Linked DNA regions of Homo sapiens. The protein of the gene in region 2 purifies or fractionates together with the protein of the main gene of each other region. This does not show direct contact. Each region holds a gene or a part of one and is shown on either strand. Other genes may lie near its edges. The genes, in order: MKLN1, SUCLA2, CACNA1C, MAEA, HARS2, GFM1 and DIRAS1.

The links.
Region 1: the proteins of SUCLA2 (region 2) and MKLN1 purify together in Homo sapiens (affinity purification with mass spectrometry; 2 studies listed by BioGRID and IntAct, with this or other methods). This does not show direct contact.
Region 3: the proteins of SUCLA2 (region 2) and CACNA1C purify together in Homo sapiens (co-immunoprecipitation; one large-scale study listed by IntAct). This does not show direct contact.
Region 4: the proteins of SUCLA2 (region 2) and MAEA purify together in Homo sapiens (affinity purification with mass spectrometry; one large-scale study listed by BioGRID and IntAct). This does not show direct contact.
Region 5: the proteins of SUCLA2 (region 2) and HARS2 purify together in Homo sapiens (affinity purification with mass spectrometry; 2 studies listed by BioGRID and IntAct, with this or other methods). This does not show direct contact.
Region 6: the proteins of SUCLA2 (region 2) and GFM1 purify together in Homo sapiens (affinity purification with mass spectrometry; one large-scale study listed by BioGRID and IntAct). This does not show direct contact.
Region 7: the proteins of SUCLA2 (region 2) and DIRAS1 purify together in Homo sapiens (affinity purification with mass spectrometry; one large-scale study listed by BioGRID and IntAct). This does not show direct contact.

Annotation. Positions count from the first base shown.
Region 1 is NC_000007.14:131,334,376-131,337,875, forward strand, and holds part of MKLN1 (muskelin), read left to right. Parts: intron 1-3,500. UniProt on the Homo sapiens protein: Component of the CTLH E3 ubiquitin-protein ligase complex that selectively accepts ubiquitin from UBE2H and mediates ubiquitination and subsequent proteasomal degradation of the transcription factor HBP1.
Region 2 is NC_000013.11:47,987,774-47,991,273, reverse strand, and holds part of SUCLA2 (succinate--CoA ligase [ADP-forming] subunit beta, mitochondrial precursor), read left to right. Parts: intron 1-2,292; coding exon 2,293-2,392; intron 2,393-2,570; coding exon 2,571-2,733; intron 2,734-3,500. UniProt on the Homo sapiens protein: ATP-specific succinyl-CoA synthetase functions in the citric acid cycle (TCA), coupling the hydrolysis of succinyl-CoA to the synthesis of ATP and thus represents the only step of substrate-level phosphorylation in the TCA.
Region 3 is NC_000012.12:2,695,719-2,698,450, forward strand, and holds the end of CACNA1C (voltage-dependent L-type calcium channel subunit alpha-1C), read left to right. Parts: 3' UTR 1-2,232; downstream 2,233-2,732. UniProt on the Homo sapiens protein: Pore-forming, alpha-1C subunit of the voltage-gated calcium channel that gives rise to L-type calcium currents. Mediates influx of calcium ions into the cytoplasm, and thereby triggers calcium release from the sarcoplasm.
Region 4 is NC_000004.12:1,324,391-1,327,890, forward strand, and holds part of MAEA (E3 ubiquitin-protein transferase MAEA), read left to right. Parts: intron 1-3,236; coding exon 3,237-3,313; intron 3,314-3,500.
Region 5 is NC_000005.10:140,694,455-140,697,129, forward strand, and holds part of HARS2 (histidine--tRNA ligase, mitochondrial isoform 1 precursor), read left to right. Parts: intron 1-1,053; coding exon 1,054-1,179; intron 1,180-1,283; coding exon 1,284-1,391; intron 1,392-1,648; coding exon 1,649-1,747; intron 1,748-2,066; coding exon 2,067-2,160; intron 2,161-2,488; coding exon 2,489-2,616; intron 2,617-2,675. UniProt on the Homo sapiens protein: Mitochondrial aminoacyl-tRNA synthetase that catalyzes the ATP-dependent ligation of histidine to the 3'-end of its cognate tRNA, via the formation of an aminoacyl-adenylate intermediate (His-AMP).
Region 6 is NC_000003.12:158,654,527-158,658,026, forward strand, and holds part of GFM1 (elongation factor G, mitochondrial), read left to right. Parts: intron 1-20; coding exon 21-105; intron 106-3,500. UniProt on the Homo sapiens protein: Mitochondrial GTPase that catalyzes the GTP-dependent ribosomal translocation step during translation elongation.
Region 7 is NC_000019.10:2,714,067-2,716,219, reverse strand, and holds the end of DIRAS1 (GTP-binding protein Di-Ras1), read left to right. Parts: 3' UTR 1-1,653; downstream 1,654-2,153. UniProt on the Homo sapiens protein: Displays low GTPase activity and exists predominantly in the GTP-bound form.

The DNA.
Region 1 (3,500 bases), on a different chromosome or scaffold from region 2:
TGTGTTTTTCAGTCTGGGACTCTTAGAACTTCAGAAAAATAAAAACACTCAAGATGGAAGAAATGTACTCAGGATGAGAATTTGAGTCTACAGAGCTGATTCCTAGAATTAGATATTTGTGACTTTTGGCAAGTTATGATTCTTTTCTGAGCGTCAGTTTCTTGTGTAGAAATACTTTTTATCTTGATCAAATGTTGAGAGGTTTATGTACAATTTTTTGGGCACATGGGTAAATGGTTCTATTATTTGCGTTAACTTTTAGGTAAATATTTAAATAGATTTTTAATAAATGATTTTTGGCCTGATACAAAGACTTTGTGATGTTTTACGTGTAGATAAGATACATTTCAGCCACTTGTGGCAATGAGTTTGCTGTATTTCAGTCATTCAAAAATCGTTTTTGGAAATATGAAAGATTTTCTAGACTTTAATTTTAGAGATACAGCTATTTATAGACATTTTAATATGTATAAAATGTTTCAAAGAATGTACAGTTGAGAATTTAGAGATCCCTAATTACTGTTTGTTTATAATACCATTTGTCAGAAATCTCTGATAAGAGACAATAGAAAATTTATAAAATTTCTAGGTCTTTATAGGTTCAATCTTAGGATAGTTGATCCGGGTATCTTCTCTGCTACCGGATTTCCCAGGGCTTGTTTTGTGAATGGCTGGTTCTGTAGATTGTTGCTTATTAAGGGGTGGTCAGATAAAGCTCTGAGAAGTCCAGCAGTATTAAAATCTATTAATATGGGGGACTTTTGAAGAAAATATTTTTTAACATCTTTGCACATTGGGAAGATGTTTCAGTTAGAAAATTTTTTTGTTGTTGTTTAATGAGAACTTCAGGACTTGGTTACGAATATTTCTAAAAATCTGTGAAGTCAAAGTAACATTCTGTAGAATACTGTGTATGTATATTTATGCTGTAGATAAACAAAGATATTGTTTGTTTAATGGGTTTTGCTTATGATGAAATTTTACTGATTAAGATTAATCCATGTTTAAAAAAGTATACAAAGAGAAAGGAAATATCATAGTCATTATCTAGGAATAATTTAAGTAGTCTAATATAAATCTGTCCCTAAAAAAGTTGTTGAATGGCAGCTAACTAGATTGAAGTACCCTAACATAACTTATATTTTGAATTGGTTGTTAATAATAATTGGAAAACTAGGCTATGTTTAGTCCTAAGACTATAGGGTTTCCTCTCAACACATTTTAGCTGTATCCCACAAATTGTGGTATGTTACATGTTCATTATCATTTATGCAAAAATGTTTTTCAGATTTTATTTTGGCTTATTCTTTGACCTGTAGGTTTTTTTTTTTTTTTAACAAATGTATTGCTTACTTTTTGAACGTTTGGGGATTTGCTAGTTATCTTTCTGTTACTAATTTCTTAATTTCACTATGATTAGAGAACACACTCTGAATAGTTTCAGACCTTTATTGATACTTATTTTATGGCTCAGCATTTTTATAAATGTTTATGTACCCTTGAAAAGACTATGCATTCTGCTGTTAACTACTGTCTTCTATGTACTTTGTTAAGTTCAAGTTTGTAAATTGTGTTATTGTGTTGTACAAATCTTCTCTATCCTTACTGAATTTTTTTTTTTTTGCCTTTTTTTCTATTCATTACAGAGAGAGGTGTCTTGAGGTTAAGTGTCAAATGTGTCTTACTGTGATTGTGGATTTGTATATTTCTCCTTTTAGTTCTATAAAGAACTAAACTGTATGCTTTATGTATTTTGAAGTCATATTACTAGGCACATACAAACTTATCTTTCTAGTACATTGGCTCTTTATCATTATAACATGTCCCTTTTTATCTCTAGTAACACTTGTCTCTCGCCTCAAAGTCTTCTTAGCTACACCTGCTTTATTTTGGCTGCTGTTTGCTTGCATGGTAAAACTTTCTCTCTCCTTTTTGCTTTTAATGCTCCTGTAGCTTTATATTTGGGGTCTGTTTCTTGTTAAGAATAAACAGATTTTTGTTTGCCTGTTTTTAATTAAATCTGAAATATATTTAGCTCATTAATGGTAAATATAATTATTGATAAATTTGGGTTTATGTCTGTCATTTTATTGTTTTCTGTTTGTCCTACTTGTTCTATATTCTATTTTCTCTCCATTGTTGCCTTCTTTTGGATTAATCAAGTGTTTTAAAAATATTATTTTATTCCTCCCTTTGTTAGCTTGTTAGTTATATATTCTGTTACTGTTCTTTTGGTGGTTACGCTAGATCACCACAAGCTTTCTTGTGGTACATTAGAGTTGCATATTCATTAGGATTTTGAAAAACAACATCTCAGACATTGTTAGGACCCTAGAAAACTTTAATAGCATTTATCACTCTCCTGCTTTTATGTTGTCATTGTCATGCATTTCACGTCTACATTTAAATCCAGAGACTGTTGTTTTGTACAGTTAATATTTACCCTTTCCATTGTTCTTTATTTCCTTTTGTATTTACATGCTTCCATCTGAGATTAATTTTCCTCTGTCTGAAGAACTCCTTTTAGGGAGTTTGGTGGTACTGAATTCTCAGTTTTTGCTTGTTTGAAATTTATTTATTTTCATCTTTGAAGAATATATTAAATGACTGTACAGTTCTACATTATTAGCTGTTATTTTCTTGAAGCACTTTAAAGATCTCAGTTCATTGTCTTCTAGCTTCCATTGTTTCTGTTGCAAAATCAGCCGTCAGACTTACTGTTGCTTCTTGGAAGGTAGTATGACTTTCTTGTTCAGCTGCCTTTCTTTTTGTCATTCTCTTTTTCTTTAAGTTTAAACAGCTTTCAGTGATGCACCTAAGAATGGTTTTGTTTGTACCCTGTTTGGCGTTTCTGGCACCTCTTGAATTTGTAGTATGACTGATCAGCTGTGAAAAAATTTTGACTTTTTAAAAATATTGTTTCTGCCCCATTTTTGTCTCCTTTGCTCTGTGACTCCAATTAAATCTTTATTATACTTTTTATCCCCCATATGTCTCCTGCTCTCTTCTGTTATTTTTATGATTTTTTTCCTCCTCTTATCCGTTCTGGATAGTTTTTACTTGACTGTATTTCAGTTCACTTATTCTGAATTTAACTATGTCCAATCTGCTTTTTAACCCCATCTATTCTTAATTTTAGTTATAGTATTTTTTAGTTTTAGAATTATTTCATCCTCTCTTTTTAAGATAGATTCTAATTATGTGAAAATCTCTTGTCATGTATTTTTTGAGCATATTAATCAAATTGCTTTAAAGTCTGTGTCTGAAAACTTCAATATCTGTATCACCTATAGGCCTATTTCCATCATCTCTTTCCTTTTGATTTTGCATCTTGTTAGGCCAAATAATAATAATAGTTAATATATTTGTATATTAATGTATGTTAATTATATATTCTATTGTATATTATATAAATTATTACATGTGGATAATAACATAATAGTAATAATTATTATTAGGCAATTTTTTGATGGAGTGCCAGACATTATATGCAGAATTTT
Region 2 (3,500 bases):
AGATAAAAAGTGTAGAGGGTATTATAAGGTCTTCTAGGCCATTGTAAGCACTTTGGCATTTAACTGAGTGAGACTGGCATTCAGTGCAAGGTTTTAAGTAGAGGAATGGTGTGCCTGCTTTGGCTGCTGCCTTGAGAATATTCTGTGGGGGACAAAGGTCATATAGTTAAGAGATAGTGGTGGTTGGGATCAGAGTCTAAACTGCAGGTGATGAGGAATGGTGAAGATTCTGGATAAATTTGAAGATAGAACCAGTATGATTTCCTGGCTGAATGGAAGTGGGGTTTGAGAAAGACAAGTTTTTTAAACACTCTCTTGGCTGACTACGCATAGGGTCATCATCTGGTTTAAATAGCATGTATTTCTGGTGAAGGCTTACATCAGTAATTTTCTAAATGTTCTTTTAAAATAATTGTTAATGTGTAAACTTTAGGTTGTTTTTGTTTGGTTTCAAACTCCATTTCCTACCTCATTGATTTGGTTGGTTCATCTGATTAGGTGGGAGCTTCCTCTCATTCTGCTTGATAAATGCATCGTGGAGTGACATCCTAGTTGTAGAGGACTCTACTTCAGTCTGTTCAAATCCATGTTTATGGAGTAGTTGTTATATCCCAGAGACTTCCTTGTGCTTGGGATATAATGAATACAGTGAGACCTTTAGCCCTGATCTCAAAGGTTATTTTGCCATAATGTATAGTTGGTGCCACCCTGCCAGTGTGGGCAAAATGCTATGAGAGGCAAAATGAGGAGGCTCTGAATTCTGCCTGTCTGGTACACAGAGAATGCCTTTCTAAGAGGTATTACTCTTTTTTTTTAACTGATACATAATATTTTTGTGGTACATGTTATATTTTGTTACATGCATAGAGTGTGTAATGATCAATTCAGGGCATTTAGGATACCCATCACCCAGAGCATTTACTCTTTTGAGACAGCCTTGCTCTGTCCTCCAGGCTGGAGTGCAATGGCACAATCTTGGCCCATTGCAACCTCCGCCTCCCGGATTCAAGTGATTCTTGTGCCTCAACCTCCCAAGTAGCTGGGATTACAGACATGTACCACCATGCCTGGCTAATTTTTGTATTTTTAATAGAGATGAGATTTCACCATATTGGCTAGTCTGGTCTCGAACTCCTGGCCTCATGTGACCCGCCTGCTTCAGCCTCTCAAAGGGCTGGGATTACAGGAGTGAGCCACCGCACCGGGCCCATTTACTCTTGATCATGAATGATGAGTACTATCTAGGCTAAACAGCCAGTTTGCTGGTTTTCCACAGCAAATTAGAAAGGAGAGGAAAAGGGATAAATAGTAATCAGTCTACCTGTTAAAGAAGAAAAATTCAGTCCATTTATTTAAAAATATGCATAAGCTTTGCAAGCATAGAATTCTGAAATCTTTTGATACAGATACCTTAATAACTCCTGATAGTACTACTCATGCAGTACTGCTCAATAATGTATTTTAATAGAACTTTCTCTTAGTGGGACAGTATAAATCAGTATCAATACTGGTAATGGTAATATCCCCCAAATCATGACATATTCCTGCTATAGCGATATAACTCAGATGTTCTCAGGACAGCAAGTTTACATGTGAATAGAGAGGGAGGGACGTGTTAGGAAGACATGAAATTCAATTTTGTACTTTTGATACTTTCCAGAGTTCTAGATGACACTTTCCAAAGTGTCAAGAAATGGTTAAATTATTTTCAGTTTACTTTTAAGAAATGGTTTAATGTGGCCAGGTGCGGTGGCTCATGCCTGTAATCCCAGCACTGGCTCACGCCTGTAATCCCAGCACTTTGGGAGGCCGAGGTGGGCAGATCATGAGGTCAGGAGATCGAGACCATCCTGGCTAACATGGTGAAACCCTGTCTCTACTAAAAATACAAAAAAATTAGCCAGGCATGGTGGCGGGCGCCTGTAGTCCCAGCTACTCGGGAGGCTGAGGCAGGAGAATGGCGTGAACCTGGGAGGCGGAGCTTACAGTGAGCCGAGATCGCGCCACTGCACTCCAGCCTGGGCGACAGAGCGAGACTCTGTTTCAAAAAAAAAAAAAAAGAAATGGTTTAATGTAAGTGACGAATTTTGAAAATTGTGGGCCTTTTAGACAGTGATTATTTTAGTGTTCTAATCTAGAAAATCTACATAAAGAGAATGCCTTATTTTTGGACATTGTGAATAAATTAGACTTGATTTAATAACACCTGTCAATATGTATGTTAAATAACAAAATACTATGTCTGGCATGCTGCTCCATGCTTCATATTTAATAGAAGTGTTTTTCTTCTAGGTTCAAAAGATGTCGTGATAAAGGCACAGGTTTTAGCTGGTGGTAGAGGAAAAGGAACATTTGAAAGTGGCCTCAAAGGAGGAGTGAAGATAGTTTTCTCGTAAGTCACATTTTTTAAGGAAAAATCATCCTTGTTAAAGACTGATTAAAGATTACTTATTGAATTGATGAAAATACTGAAATTTAAATATTAGATGAGATAAAATTTTGGCTATTATGTGGATTTGCTTTTTCTCAACTGGAGGAAAGAAAAATTTGAGTTCTTTTTCTTATTTTAGTCCAGAAGAAGCAAAAGCTGTTTCTTCACAAATGATTGGGAAAAAATTGTTTACCAAGCAAACGGGAGAAAAGGGCAGAATATGCAATCAAGTATTGGTCTGTGAGCGAAAATATCCCAGGAGAGAATACTACTTTGCAATAACAATGGAAAGGTCATTTCAAGTGAGTAATTGTAGACATGATACATACGGGATAAATTTATGACATTCAATTTCAAAAGTCCATTATTGTTTCTATTTATGTGGGAAAGATTTTAAAAGTACAAATTATAATCTGTTTGTATGTCATGAGCATGATATTTATGTCATTTAAAAAACAGCTTCTTTAATGCCGTAAAATTTGATATATAATATCATGATCTTAAAATTATAGGAAAAATTCTGCTGTAATAAATTTCATGGGATTCTCAAATTGTTAATTCACTAAAAGCAGCTTAAATCATCTCTGGATCATCTCCAGATTGAGAAAATTATATCTAGCATAGTAAAATATTCTAATGAAAGAGAAAGTTGCTGAACCCACTAGAAGAATGTGTATCCATTGCCTCATCTTCTGTTTTCTCAACTTCTTGGGTTTGTTTTTTTTTTTTTAATAGTTTCGGGTTTGTTTCACTATATGATTCAATATTTGGTAAATTGAGGGATGACATTAAGTAGCAAACAATATGGTTTTAAGGAGTATTACATTAGCACAGCTCTCCTCTCTTTATGGAACCTAAAATGTTGAACATAAAGCTTCTGGTGAAGAGAAAATCCCTTTATAGACCTGGTGTTTGGAAGAGAGCATTGATAATCATTTTATACTAGAATTATCTGTTTTTCGAGGGTATTAGGTTTTACAAGCTGAATCTGTGTGTTAACTAGCTTGTTTTTTGAAGCAACTGGGTATATATTTGAAAGCCCCAGTACGGATTTCATGTAGAACATTAA
Region 3 (2,732 bases), on a different chromosome or scaffold from region 2:
CCATGGGCAGATGCTTACACGACCTCTTTGTGAAGCCTCTTCTGGGTTTAACTTCATTCATCAATTTATTCTTATGTCAAAGCAATGAAACTTTTCTTTCTGGAGCCAGATACCAATACAACAGGTGAACGGGTTTCTGCCACATCTCTACATTGACGGGGGATGCTTGAACAACCCCCCTCACTACACAGACACACACCGTTAAGGCACAAGGGCTGGGGTTGAGCTCTAGATGAGGGACTTTCCTGCTCCTGCAAGGGTGAGCACTGTATACACAGACAAGGAGGGTGCAGTAGAGTGACTCCCTTGGATGGAAGTAGTACCATCAGAACCTACTATTATTATGACATAAATTCTATTTACATACATTGAGAGAATACTACAATCAACACTTTTTCCTGGGATGACTTTAAGAGGTTTGAGCCACAGCACCTGAAGTGGCAAAGATCCATGGTCTTTGTAGGGTATTAGAGAACTCTTCCAGTCACCTCTGAAAGCACTCTAGATCTTGCAGCTGAGTGGATGAAGTGTAACAAATCTGTTGCACGCTGAGAGGAGTCAGAATTAGCATTTTTCATGAAAGTTCCCCACGTCTCTACTAAGAATGAGGAAGAAAAGACTAAGACTAGGTAATTACACAGAGGCTTGAAATGTTACATCACCAGAGCCAAGTCCTCTCCCTTCAGATCAGTTACTGGCTGCTACACAGGGACACCCCCACCTTTTCAGGGCATCCCATGCACTCCACTTCTCAGGATCTAAGGAATTTGACTTTGTAGGGATCCCAGAAAGGGCACTGTGCCACTTCCCCTGGTGTGAATCAGACATACATTGTACATTCATTTCTAAAATTCACTCATGCACCTCAAACCAAGGTCATTATCCAAAAAAAAAAAAAAAAAGCTCTGGGTGGAAGAGTTTGTAAGTTTTAAGAGAGGGTCATTTCTATGTGAGGAAATGCAGAAATGGACAGAATGATTCTTATTCACTGTTTGGGTCTGGAGAATTCCCATTGTGGAAATCTTAGAGATCTCAAGTTTATTACCAAGGGAATAAGGAAAAAAAGGTGAGCAGGCACCAGGCCAAGCAGTGGCTCCCTTGCCAAGGAACCTGAGGCTGCAGGTTTCAGGGACCCCCTTGAAGAAACCTCTCCTGGCCATTGGCCAGGAGAAAAGAGAAGTCTCTCCTGTAGAGTCACAAGAGAAGCAAAAGAGGGTGGGTCACTGGGTCCTGGACATAGCCCCCAACCCCAAGACTTCCCAATATGGAGAAACTACACCAATGTTTAAAAGGGGAAAAGGAAAGAACTTGTACATCAAGGGAAGATGATTTGTAAACACACAGTCCTGTGCAGAAAGATCCCCTTCAGGAGGTGTCTCCAGCATCCCAAAGCTGTGCGCACCTTCTCTTTTCCTGCCTCAGGCCACCTATGCATCCAGCTGCAGCCCATACCCACACCTGAAATCCATCTCTTGAATCCCAGCCAGGTTATATACCACCCCATTGCCATGTCCTGTCCTGGCCAGAATGCATGCTGTTCCCCCAAGCCTCGTGGGAGTGAGGCCATGGGAAACAGAGATGAGCATGTCTGGACAAGTCTGTGATGGTAGTGGATGAGAATAACCCATGGCAAAACACGCACATTCATTAAGAAATAGGGCGACAGATTCCCCGTTGGTGAAGCACTGAAAGGTCTATTACTCTCATAATATTGCTGTTTTATTTTAATCCACCAGAGCTACCATGCAAAACTTTCCTCCTGTGAAACGCTCCAGATAAAGCTCCTCTAATCTCCCCTTCCCTCATGTCCTCCAGCTCAAACCCACCTTCATCCCCCAAACCAATCTGTATCATGCCTGTTATCAGAGAGGCACAGAAAGATGGGCAGTGCCTCCGTTGTCACCATTCCCCACACCCCTACACACCCCCACACCCTCCCCTCCAGGCTCCACGACTTCACAGTCTTACTGTTGTAAATATCATTGTACAGTTTGTAATCCTCAAATAATCCCATTGTCAGAGGCCTCGCCTGATGGGCCTTCTCACCCTCGAGAAAGGCCAGGGAATCTAGAAGGGGCAACCCTTCAAGGAGAGCTTCAGGGTCATCTCTGTGTGAGACACTATTGTATATTCCTGTAAGATTGCATTTTTATCTAAGGAATGATGTTATTTAAAAAACAAACAAAAAACACAAAAAATAAGAATTGCAAATAAATTTCTTAACAATGTCTACATTGACTTCATTGTATCTTCCCTCTTCCTTATTTCTTCCTTTCTCCTGTTTCCTAGAGGTCACAAATACAAACTTCACTCAGTTATCTCAACTGTCTGGGATCCCCAAAAGGAAGAAGACTGGAGAGAACACAGGAAATATGAATCCAATGATAATACCTAAGTCCATTCAGCAGTTAACCCATCCCCTATTTCTTCCTTCTCATGAAAGAGTTGACAGAAAAATGGCCAAAAGTTAAAAAGGAGACAAAATCAGAGGAATTAAATGGCTAATTCACATGGATTAGACAGGAAAAGCAGTCTCTGAAATTGGTTTTGAAAGGACAGAAGGGAAGAGGGATGGAATGTAGGAGAGAAGAAAGGAGGGGGAGATATGATAATATATAAAGTACTATGAGGACTATACAAATGTAAGATTGCTTTTCTTTTTTTTTGTTATTATAACTTAATCTGATTTCGATAAACCTTTCAGAATAACCCCTTAAGTAAAAATAATTTGT
Region 4 (3,500 bases), on a different chromosome or scaffold from region 2:
TGCCTGGTGGATGAGTGTGTCTGGTGTTGGATGAAGTTGAGATTGGTGTTGGATGAAGTTGAGATTGGATGCCTGGTGGATGACCGTGCCTGGTGTTGGATAAAGTTGAGATTGGATGCTTGGTGGATGAGCGTGCCTGGTGTTGGATGAGTTGAGATTGGATGAGCGTGCCTGGTGTTGGATGAGTTGAGGTTGGATGAGTGTGCCTGGTGTTGGATGAGTTGAGATTGGATGAGCGTGCCTGGTGTTGGATGAGTTGAGATTGGATGCCTGGTGGATGAGTGTGTCTGGTGTTGGATGAAGTTGAGATTGGATGCCTGGTGGATGAGTGTGTCTGGTGTTGGATGAAGTTGAGATTGGATGCCTGGTGGATGAGTGTGTCTGGTGTTGGATAAAGTTGAGATTGGTGTTGGATGATTTGAGATTGGATGCCTGGTGGATGAGCGTGCCTGGTGTTGGATGAGTTGAGATTGGATGAGCGTGCCTGGTGTTGGATGAGTTGAGATTGGATGAGCGTGCCTGGTGTTGGATGAGTTGAGATTGGATGAGCGTGCCTGGTGTTGGATGAAGTCGAGACTGGACGGGGCCTGAATCCATATTTAGATGCTGTCCAGAAATGCGCCCTGAAGACTCCAAATGACACGAAAACATGCCCGGTACGAGATGCGGCCGAGCCAGTTGGGGTACACGGCTGTCTGTGCAGTCTGCTCACATGTGCACGCACGCCAGGGGGTGTGTGGGGAGGCAAGGAGGAGCCAGACTGTGCTCTAACGGGTCCCTGGGACCAGCTGTGAGAACCTAGATGGGAAAAGAAACTTGAGACCCAAGTTTGACCTGGCTGAGAGATGGATTTCACAGGCATGGGTGGGTGAGTGGCCCTGAAGGCCCCTGAAGCAGTGATTTGTTTGCTGCACGTCTGTGCGAAAGCCACACGGAGCCATCAGTGTGGGCGCCTGTCGCAGGGCGGGCACAGCCTTGTTGGCGCTCCACGCCGTATGGGACAGTGTAGACTCGGTGTTTTAGATTTGGGTCTGAATACCTAAGTTTCACGACATAGACACACTTACATATTAGTGGACCAATTGAAAGTAACCTACTAGAGCAAAAGGTGTTATTGAAAAGCAGGTTTGAGGTGTCTATTGTGTGAAGCGGTAACCTAGAGTGGGCCCAGAGTCCTGCTCTTCTAGAGCACCCCCTCGGCAGCTGCGTCCTGCCTTTAGACAGAGCCCCGGCACTCGCCTGCTCTAGACACGGCAGCCATCAGGCAGCCCCTGGGAGGCAGGTGGGGCCCTGGTGGGGAGCCTCTATCTCTTCCCGCTGGCCCTTCCCTTCCTCTCCTGCCAGGCTGGCTCTGAAGGGAGCGGAGTGCTGACCGAAGTCTGCCTGCTGATTAGTGGGGTGGGGACTCGGGACCCTGGGATGACTTTGTGCCTCTCGGCTGATTTGTACCAAGCCTGGCACTCCCCACCCAGAGCCTGTGCCACTGCTGGGGTCAGAGACAGTCCTCCTGCCCCAGCTTGGAGCAAGCCTGTGAGTTCTGCGTCCAGCCTGTTGACCCGTCTGTCTAGGGACACAGGGTGATGAGGGGCTGAGGGTACAGGGCAGAGGCAGCAGGGCAGGGACCTGAGCCCCTCTGAGCCCCTGGAAGGCAGGTGGCCCCCGGGGGTCTGGGCAGCCCAGTCCTCCCCACACCCACGCGGAGCCACTGCTGTGGGTGCTATGCGTGTCGGGGCAGCAAGGCTGGCAGGCGGGGTGGGCTGGAGCACAGGTGGCTCCTCAGAAAGCTCAGTGGGGAAAGCTCTGGGAAGCGGAAGTGATGAGCTTCAACTTAAATGCAGTGGTCCGGGGTGGATTCATCTGCCACGTGGAGTTTCTGTTCATGCCGTCCTGAGAGCCAGGCCATGTGAACCCAGAGTGACACGCGGCCCCAGCCCAAGACTCGCTCCGTGGTGCCCACGCCTATATCCTGTTTCCGGGGTGAAGCCCTGAGAATGTCCTGAAACCACACGGAAGATCTTACGGTTTAGACGGACATGTCACTTCCGTAGAATCCGCGTCTCATCTTGGATGACTGCGGTCAATGTTGCCGCTGCCCCCACCCCAGCCACAAGTCTCGGCCCACGTTGGACTGAGGTTGCTGAGATTTCAGATTGAGGGTTGGGCTTCCCTTAGGTGCACGTGAGAGGCTCATAGGCAGACACATGTGGGACTTGGTCCTGCAGGAGCTTCCCCCACCCCCGCCCCTGCCTCAGGCATAGTGCCTTCAGCCAGCAGCCCCAACTCGGCCTCTCTCCGTCTTCTACACATCCTGGAAGCGCCCTCCCTTCACGCGAGCCGCCCCTTGGCCTCACAGCCACCTAGGACCTCAGTGTCCCCTGGGCCAGGCCTCCATTCCATGTGCCACCCGCCTGGGGCCTCGGCACCGGCCCCGGCTTCTGCCCGCCATGTTCTCGCCAGGTGTCTGTGCGGTCCCCCGTCCATAACCTCGGTGCAGGCGCTCCCCGCCCTACCGACCTGGGTCCTGCCTGCTGCAAGCTTGCTTCTCTGCCTCATGCCCCTGTGAGGCACCAGCCAGCAACCCCACATGTGGTCCCTGTCTCCTCCCCGCCCTGCCGACCTGGGTCCTGCCTGCTCCAAGCTTGCTTCTCTGCCTCATGCCCCTGTGAGGCACCAGCCAGCAGCCCCACATGTGGTCCCTGTCTCCTCCCCACCCGGGGCATCAGCGCCTCGGGACAGGACTTGCCCACGTTCTCCCAGAACAGCCCCGGGTTCAAGCCAGCACCCAGTCTACATTCGGGATAGTTGGGTCCAGAGGCCCGGTGGGAGTGTAGAGGAAGCAGTGGCCTCAGGGCGGGACCCAGGAAGCTGCTTTGTCCTTGCAGAGGGGTTGGTGCCTTTGCTCCAGCAGCTGCACCTGCTGCTCTGCCCTCCCAGCTGTGCTCCTGGAAGCGCCCTGAGCGCCCTGGCCTTCGGGTTGAAATGCTGGGCGGCTGCACGCCCCACCGCAGCTGCAGGAGCAGGGGGCGGGACTCACATTCAGAACCCAGTGTTCCCTGGAAAGTCTGCTGCAGGTTAAAGTGGCAGCTTCAGCCTCAGCCCTGCCTTCCCCGTGCCTGTGAGAGAGGGGTTCAGAGCTTTGGTTGTGGGGTCTGCTGGTGGACATGCGGGTGCGGCACCCGGGCACCTGGGCTCTGTGGGATGTGCTGTCTAAGCCCTCGTCTTGTCTTTGCCCTCAGAGCTGCCTGGAGTTCAGCCTCAGAATCCAGGAGTTCATTGAACTCATCCGGCAGAATAAGAGACTGGACGCTGTGAGGTAGGCATTGCGGACGTGCGTCTCCTCGAGGGAGGGCAGGATGTTCGGCTGCGGCCCCTGCCAGCCCTCCCTGTCGTGGTCTGGGTCCTGGGACGTCCCCTGGGTCGTCCCCTGGGTCTTGAGTCTGACCCCTGCCTGCTCAGGTGGCTGCTTCTCCCACTGTTCCTGAATGGGACTTGGGGAGTGA
Region 5 (2,675 bases), on a different chromosome or scaffold from region 2:
CTAGTGTGTATCATAATCCTTTGGGGGAGCTTGCAGAAGCACAGACATTTGGCTGCAGTCCCAGAGATTCTTAGCTAATTCTGTAGCTGGAATGGGGCTCAATAATTTGTATTAAAAAATTGTTTTTTTTGGCCAGACACGTGGCTCACGCCTGTAATCCAAGCCCTTTGGGAGGCTGAGGCAGGTGGATCACCTGAGGTCAGGAGTTCAAGACCAGCCTGGCCAATATAGTGAAACCCCATCTCTACTCAGCTCCTGCTGAGCTCTGGGGCTCTCAGGTTCTGAGTCTAGTTTGGGACTGACTGTCACCTTGTCTCCACAGATCTCTTTTGACGTAAAAAGTTAGCTGGCTGTGGTGGCAGGTGCCTGTAATCCCAGCTACTAGGGAGGCTGAGGCAGGAGAATCACTTGAACCCAGGAGGCAGAGGTTGCAGTGAGCCGAGATTGCGCCATTGCACTCCAGCCTGGGTGACAAGAGCAAAACTCTGTCTCAAAAAAAAAATTTTTTTTGTGGAGATGGGTGTCTTTGTTGCCCAGGCTGGTTGTAAACTCATCGTTTCAAGTGATCCTCCCATCTTGGCCTCCTAAAGTGCTGGGGTTACGGGTGTGAGCCACTGCATCTGGCCTACAGTCTGCATTTTAAACAAGCATCGTGGGTAATTAAGATGCATGTAGTCCTTTCCCTGCACTTTCAGAACCAGTAGCTTAGAAGTTGTTAGGCAAATCCAAGTTCTGAAGCTTGACTATTTTGAGATGGTTCGGAATCGATCTGAATGGGCAGAAAGACCTGAAGTTAGTTCTTGGGTCACTTCTATCTCTACTTGCCTTGCTTTCTGCTGAACTTTTAGTTTTGCTAGGTGAGATTCCTTCATTTGACACTATTCAATATATATTGAATTCCAAGCACTGCTAGGCCTTGGGGATAGTGGAAAAAAGGGAAGGTCCTTGTTCTTACCCTAGTGGATGAGATCCAGGCCCAGTCCTCCCTAATGTCTGTATACTGGGCCTAATCTTTGGATGCAGTATCCCTCTTCCTTAACCCATTTATGTGAGGTTCCCTTTGCTCGTTATCTGGCCATGAATAAGGTGAAGAAGATGAAACGTTATCATGTTGGAAAGGTGTGGCGGCGAGAGAGCCCAACCATAGTCCAAGGCCGTTATAGGGAGTTCTGCCAGTGTGTAAGTGACCTGATGGGAGCAGCACAGTTTGATAGTTCTAGGGGCCACAACCTTGAAACTGGCTGGATAATGGATGTTTTTTCCCATCTTTTTCTTTGCTGTAGGATTTTGACATTGCTGGTCAGTTTGACCCTATGATCCCCGATGCAGAGTGTTTGAAGATCATGTGTGAAATCCTAAGTGGATTGCAGTTGGGAGACTTTCTCATTAAGGTGAGGCCAGGGCTGAGAACTGTGGGAGAAGTCTGGATTTGGCCTAATACTGTTTATGCAAGTCCCAAACTTGGGTGACTCCAACCCTTAAGCCTGCAACTGTAGGACTTTCCTAGTAAAGCTGTTGTATTTCCTATATGTCTGTACTCTTCCTGTGAAATTTCCATCCTTTTTGTGTGTCAGGAAAGTAGGTACTGCCATTGTTTTGAGTGGAAGGGCATTGACAAGCACTTGGGTCACTGACATTGAGTTCTCAGGTAAATGACCGGCGGATTGTGGATGGGATGTTTGCTGTCTGTGGTGTTCCTGAAAGCAAGTTCCGTGCCATCTGCTCCTCCATAGATAAACTAGACAAGGTAACAAAGAAGACATACTTCAGTAGACCCTATCTAGCTTCTGCCCTGCCCTCAAATCCATACCACTAGTGAAAAATAAGGAGATTGTGGCTGGAAGTGGGCTATTTTGGGGTGGAAGGTAAGGAGGCATACTCTGAAGGAAGATCTGAGTCATGCTATACAGTGGGGATTGTGACTGGATTTCTTAAGCTGTCTCTGACTTTGCTGAGTATACAGTTAGCTACTTGTGATGTATATACTGAATGGAAGTTGAGTTGTCCTTTTTCAGTTTGAGAAAGAAAGATCTTGGGGCTGGGCTAATGTTTGGGTGTTTATGCAGATGGCTTGGAAAGATGTGAGACATGAGATGGTGGTGAAGAAAGGCCTGGCTCCTGAGGTGGCTGATCGAATTGGGGACTATGTCCAGTGTCATGGTAAGAACCAGGGTTTTCAGAGCTGTGATAGAACCAGGCTGAAGGTGACATGTGCTCAAATTCTACCTCTGAAACAACTCTTTTCTGTAGATATGCTAAGCTCCAGGGCCTGTCCTGAATTTAATTTCTCTTTTACTTATTGTAACGACTTTGTGTCTTCAGATGGCAAAGCTAGAGGCAAAGGAGGAGGGTCTTGTCATGTGAGACTGGGATCTTTTTTTTTTTTTTTTTTTTTTAAAGAAAATGAGGAAGACTAGCTAGAGCACATTAGGGATAATTTTGAATGAAACACATGTGAGTGAACAGCAGAGACTTTATTTCTCTCCAGGTGGGGTATCCCTAGTAGAGCAAATGTTTCAGGATCCCAGACTATCCCAGAACAAGCAGGCCCTGGAGGGCCTGGGAGACCTAAAGCTGCTATTTGAATACCTGACTTTATTTGGAATTGCTGATAAGGTAAGCTGAATTGCAAATGGACCTCCTGCTGAGCTCTAGGGCTCTCAGGGTCCCGAGTC
Region 6 (3,500 bases), on a different chromosome or scaffold from region 2:
TATATTTCTTTTATTTTAAGTGACTCAAAAGAGAAAACCAAAATCCTAATGAACTCCAGTAGAGACAATTCCCACCCATTTGTAGGCCTGGCTTTTAAACTGGAGGTAAGTTGCTTTCTAATGTATTTAACTGCTATCTGTAGAATGTTTTTACTTCTAGGCTTTATTCCTATTACAGAATGACTCTGACTTTTATGAAAGATTTGGAAAATAGGAAAGTAGAAAGAGCAGGTAGAGAATTTCCAAAGCTCTGACATGATAGTTCTTTTGTTATTAGGTGCATTTCTTTCTAGTCTCTTCTCTTTGCCTGAAGAGTGTAAATTTTTACCTAAATCATACTACCTGTATAGTTTTGTCCTGCTCTTTTTATTTAATGTCACAGTAGATAATGGTCCATGTTTCTATAAATAGTTTAAGCATTTTAAATAGTAGCATAACAGTGCATCAAGTAGATACACCAAAATTTGCTTAAAATTTCCTAATTGTTAGATGTTTATATTGTTTCCAGGTTTCTACTGTTATAAATAACATTGGGTCCATTTCTAGAAATATGTCCTAAGGAACTAATGAAGGGTAGCGAATTAATGTTAGCTTCAGCTCACCTTATAAAACCAAAATCTCGCAAACAATTGAAAATGCCCAGCCAGTCGCAGTGGTTCACACCTGTAATCCCAGCACTTTGGGAGGCTGAGGCGGGCAGATCAGAAGGTCAGGAGTGGGAGGCCAAGGCGGGCGGATCACAAGGTCAGGAGTTCGAGACCAGCCTAGCCAACATGGTGAAACCCTGTCTATACTAAAAGTACAAAAATTAGCTGAGTATGGTGGCGGACACCTGTAATCCCAGCTACTCAGGACGCTGAGGCAGGAGAATTGCTTGAACCTGGGAGGTGGAGGTTGCAGTGAGCCGAGATCGCACCACTGCACTCCAGCCTGGGCGACAGAGCAAGACTTCATCTCGGAAAAAAAAAAAAAGAAAATGCCCAGTAATTACAATTTGATAAATAAACTGAGGTACATTCTTATAGTACAACATTATTCAGACTTTAAAAATTATGTTGAAATGCCTATTTTTGACATGAAAAGATGTTTATGATTTAAAAAGAAACAAACTTACTTATTTTAGAATATTTTAAAGAAAAGTTATGAAGATAGTCCAGAGAATTCCTGTATATCCTGCACCCAGTTTCCTCTATTGTTAATACACACTGTCACAACTAATGGGCCAATACTGATATATTATTATTAACTAAAATCCTTACTTCATTTGAATTTCTTTAGTTTTTGTCTAGGTCCTTTTTCCGTCTCACTAGACAGAAGGACCACAGAAGGCCCATCCAGAGGACCACGTTATATTTGATTGTCATGTCTCCTTATGATCTCCTAGGCTGTAATAGTTTCTTAGACTTTCCTTGTTTCTCACGAGATTGATATTTTTGAGAAGTATTGGTCAGCTCTTTTGTAGAGTGTCCCTCAATTTGGGTTTATTATTTGATGCTTTTCACATGATTAGATTGGAGTCATGTGTTTTTAGGAGGACTGCCATCGAGGTGAAGTGTTATTCTTGTCACATCATATCCAAGGTACAGACTTGCAGCATGATTTATCATTGTTTTTGTTTTTTTTTGTTTTTATTTTTATTTTTTTGAGATGAGATTTCGCTCTTGTTGCCCAGGCTGGAGTGCAATGGCACAATCTCGGCTCGCTGCAGCCTCCACCTCCCAGGTTCAAGCGAGTCTCCTGCCTCAGCCTCCCAAGTAGCTGGGATTACAGGCATGCGCCACCACGCCCAGCTAATTTTGTATTTTTAGTAGAGACATAGTTTCTCCCTGTTGGTCAGGCCGGTCTCGAACTCCTGACCTCAGGTGATCCGAGTGTCTTGGCCTCCCAAAGTGCTGGGATTACAGGCATGAGCCACCGCACCCGGCTGATTTATCATTGTTAATGCTAACCTCAATCACCACACCTGGCTGAGATAGTGTTTGACAGGTTTCTCTGCTGTAAAGTTACTGTACTCTTTTTATTCCCCTTTTCATAGTGTACTTTTTAGAAGGAAGTCACTTGGCTCAGCCAACACTTGAGGGGGGAATTATGTTCCACCCCCTTGAAGGGGGCACTATCTACATAAGTTATTTGGAATTCTTCTGAAAGGGAGATTTGTCTTTCTTCCCTGCTTATTTATCTATTTGGACAATCACTTATTTAATATCAGCGTGGACTCACGTATATGTATTTTGAACTTTGAGTTATAACTATGACTTTGAGTATGTCATTTGTTGTTCAGATTGGCTGGGTTTGGCGATTGGGAACTCTCAGTTGGCTCCTGTGTTCCTTTAACATCTTCCAATGTTTTGCCTTTTTGAATACTTCCTTACTTGCTGGCACTACAAGACGCCTCAGGCTTATCTTGTATATTCCATGCCCTAACCCTAGAATCAGCCGTTCTCCAAGGAGCACTGGTTCCTTTTTAAGTAAAATGGTATTAGAAACCAAGATTTGGGGACTGGATGGGCTTTTTGTTGAAATGCTGTTGCTTCTGTACATAATATTTTAAGTGGGGAAAAATGGTAGATAAGTTGGAAGTGTTAAGAGTGGTTATTTCTGGGATGGGATTATATTTTGGGGGCTTTTTCTTACTTTAAAAATATTTTACAGTATATTTATTACCTCCAAAATGAGGGGAAAATTTTTTTAATTAAAAAGTGGAAATAACATTACAGTAAAAGTATTTACACATAAAGCTTTTAAAAATACATATATAAGAATATTTTCTTAGGATTCCCAGAATAGTGATTATTGAGTTAAAGGCATAGAATGTTTTCATAGTTAATGGTTTATATTGCCAGATTGCGTTCATACTCTCCAAATTAATGTATTGGATTATTTCAATGAATATCATCATTGAGTATTGTTTAAAAATCATTACTGATTTAACAAATGAAGAATTCTATTGTAATCTTTTATCTTGATGAAATAAATTTTGATTTTTAAAAGCAATCAGTGCTTTAAAGTTTGTATAGTCGAATATGTCAGTCTTTCTGTTTAGTCATTCATTAATTTTTAACCTTAGCAACCTTTTATTTGTATATATTTTGTTAATATTTACTTTCGTTCCTTCTACTTCTTTATGTTTTTTTTCTTTCCCCATCATTAATTCAACTGGAATTTGTTTTAGTGGGTAGGATCTAAATGTATCTCCTCTGCCTCCAAATAGAGTATCAGTTGTCCAGTTAGTACTTTATGCACAATCCTTTCTTCCTTTTCCATTGATTTGTCATGTTTCTTTATCATCTATTGACAAATATATTTTATACTTTAGATTTTTATACTGTACTCTGTGGGGTGTTTAGTCTAATTTGTGCTGGTTCTGAATTTTCTGAGTTTCAAGCATTTTAATATGTTTTTATATCTGTCAGGGTTAGTTTTATCTTATTACCATAGTTTTTGAAAAATTTCTGTTTTTACCTATTTATTCCTCTGAATGAATTTTAAAATCACTAATC
Region 7 (2,153 bases), on a different chromosome or scaffold from region 2:
GGAAGGTGGCGTCCTGGAGTCGAGTGTACCTGCAGCCATGAGGTTCTGGGTGTTTTTTGAGAGAGTCTGAGTGACACCACACTCGTGTGACCCCACAGGGTTGTGTCCAACATACACGGAAGTGGCTATGGAATGGTGTATTTGTGCAACCTGGGGTGCGCGGATGGGTGACTTGTATCTAAGTGCATCTGCGTGTATACCTGTGTGTGTCTGTCTGGGATGATATGTTTTTGTGGCAGTCTGTGTGTGTAATAGTGGTGTAGGGTATACAGAGAGGTGGGTAGTTGTAGATACCTGTGTGTGGTTGTCAGCAAGACTGGATATGTGTGAGGTGTCTGTGTGAATCTTTGTGCCTGTATGAGCATGACTATATTTTGGGGAGTGGGTGATATGGTTTATCTGAGAGCATTTATCTGTAAATATGTTTGTCCTGATTGAGGGACACGATCTGTGTTCCACTCTATAGCAACATGACTCTAGCAATGTGACTTTCGGTTCCAAATCTGTATCAGTCAGCTACTGCTGTGTAACAAATGACCACAAATGTAGCAACCAGAAACAACACATGCTTATTATCTCATAGATTCTGTGGGTCAAGAGCCTGGGTGCAGGTTGGCTGGGTCCTCTACTTGGGATCTCAGGAGGCTGCAATCAAAGCATTCGCCAGGCAGAGGTCTCATCTGAAGGCCTGATCGGGGAAGGATTTGCTTCTTAGAAGCTCATGTGGTTGTTGCAGCATTCAGTTCCTTGCTGTTGCAAGACTGAAGGCCTCAGTTCCTCGCTGGCTGTTGGCTGGAAGCTGCCCTTTGTTCTGTACCATGTGGGTCTCTCCACAGCGGGGCTCGGAGCATGGCAGCTAAGTTAGTGAGGGAAGGTGAGATGGAGGTTTTGGTCTTATTGGGTGTGAGGAAGCAACGTGTGTGTGTGCGCACGCCCTTTTGTGCAGTGAGAGAGAGAGAGAGATTGCACACATGTGTCTCTGTAGTCATGTGGCCAGGTGGGACTATGTAGGTAACAGATTGCTCGTGTCTGATTTGGTACAAGCATGTTTGTTTTCCTCTGTGTTCGTGTGAGTGTTTACTCAACAAATGTTTATTGGACACACTCAGAGAGAGGGAGTGTGCACACGTGCGTGTGTGTTGCTATCCAGCACGTGGACCGGGCTCCCAGAAGAGCTGGCATTGTGTCTGAGCAGAGCTGGGTCCCCCCAAAACTTGGGCTGGCCCAGGGCCCACCAGCAGCTGATGTTGCCTCCTCTCCTGTCCTGGCAGTAGCTTCTGGGTTCTGAAGGTGCCGGAGAGAGTGAGGCTGGGCAGGGGTCTGCGGCCCTTTCTCAGGGACACACCCTGATAGCACAATCTCCTTGGGGCCCTGCCCACCTCCAGGCCTCTCCCACCTCAGGCCCTGCCCGACCCTGGGGAGAGAGGGCATCTGCAATAGGAGGGGACCCGAGCCTGTCCTGGCTGCTGGCCCATCCTGCCTGGGCATCCCTGGTGCTGGGGACTGTGCCAGGCCATGCTTGCTGTGACTCCGCCCCTGCCCCCTCTCCCCCCGCATGTGGGTGCCCCCACTCCCCCATCGTGGGGTCTGTGTAGCCTTCGCTCTAGACATAGTCTTCCTGCAATAAAAAAGTGGATCCTGCATTCCCCACCAGCATGGCGCCCTGTCTCTGTGGTGGGCGTGGGGTGTCAGCTCACCGCCTGTAAAGGATCAAGAAGGGTGGGGAGGTGCAGGATGGGGTGAAGGGTGAAGGAGGTGATGGGTGTAGGAAGTGAGGGATGGGATGAAGGGTGGAGGAGGTGATGGGTGTAGGAAGTGAGGGATGGGATGAAGGGTGGAGGAGGTGATGGGTGTAGGAAGTGAGGGATGGGATGAAGGGTGGAGGAGGTGGTGGGTGGAGGAAGTGAGGGATGGGGTGAAGGGTTGAGAAGGTGGTGGGTGTAGGAAGTGAGGGATGGGATGAAGGGTGGAGGAGGTGACGGGTGTAGGAAGTGAGGGATGGGGTGAAGGGTGGAGGAGGTGGTGGGTGTAGGAAGTGAGGGATGGGATGAAGGGTGGAGGAAGTGGTGGGTGTAGGAAGTGAGGGATGGTGTGAAGGGTGGAGGAGGTGATGGGTGTAGGAAGTGAGGGATGGGGTGAAGGGTGGAGGAGGT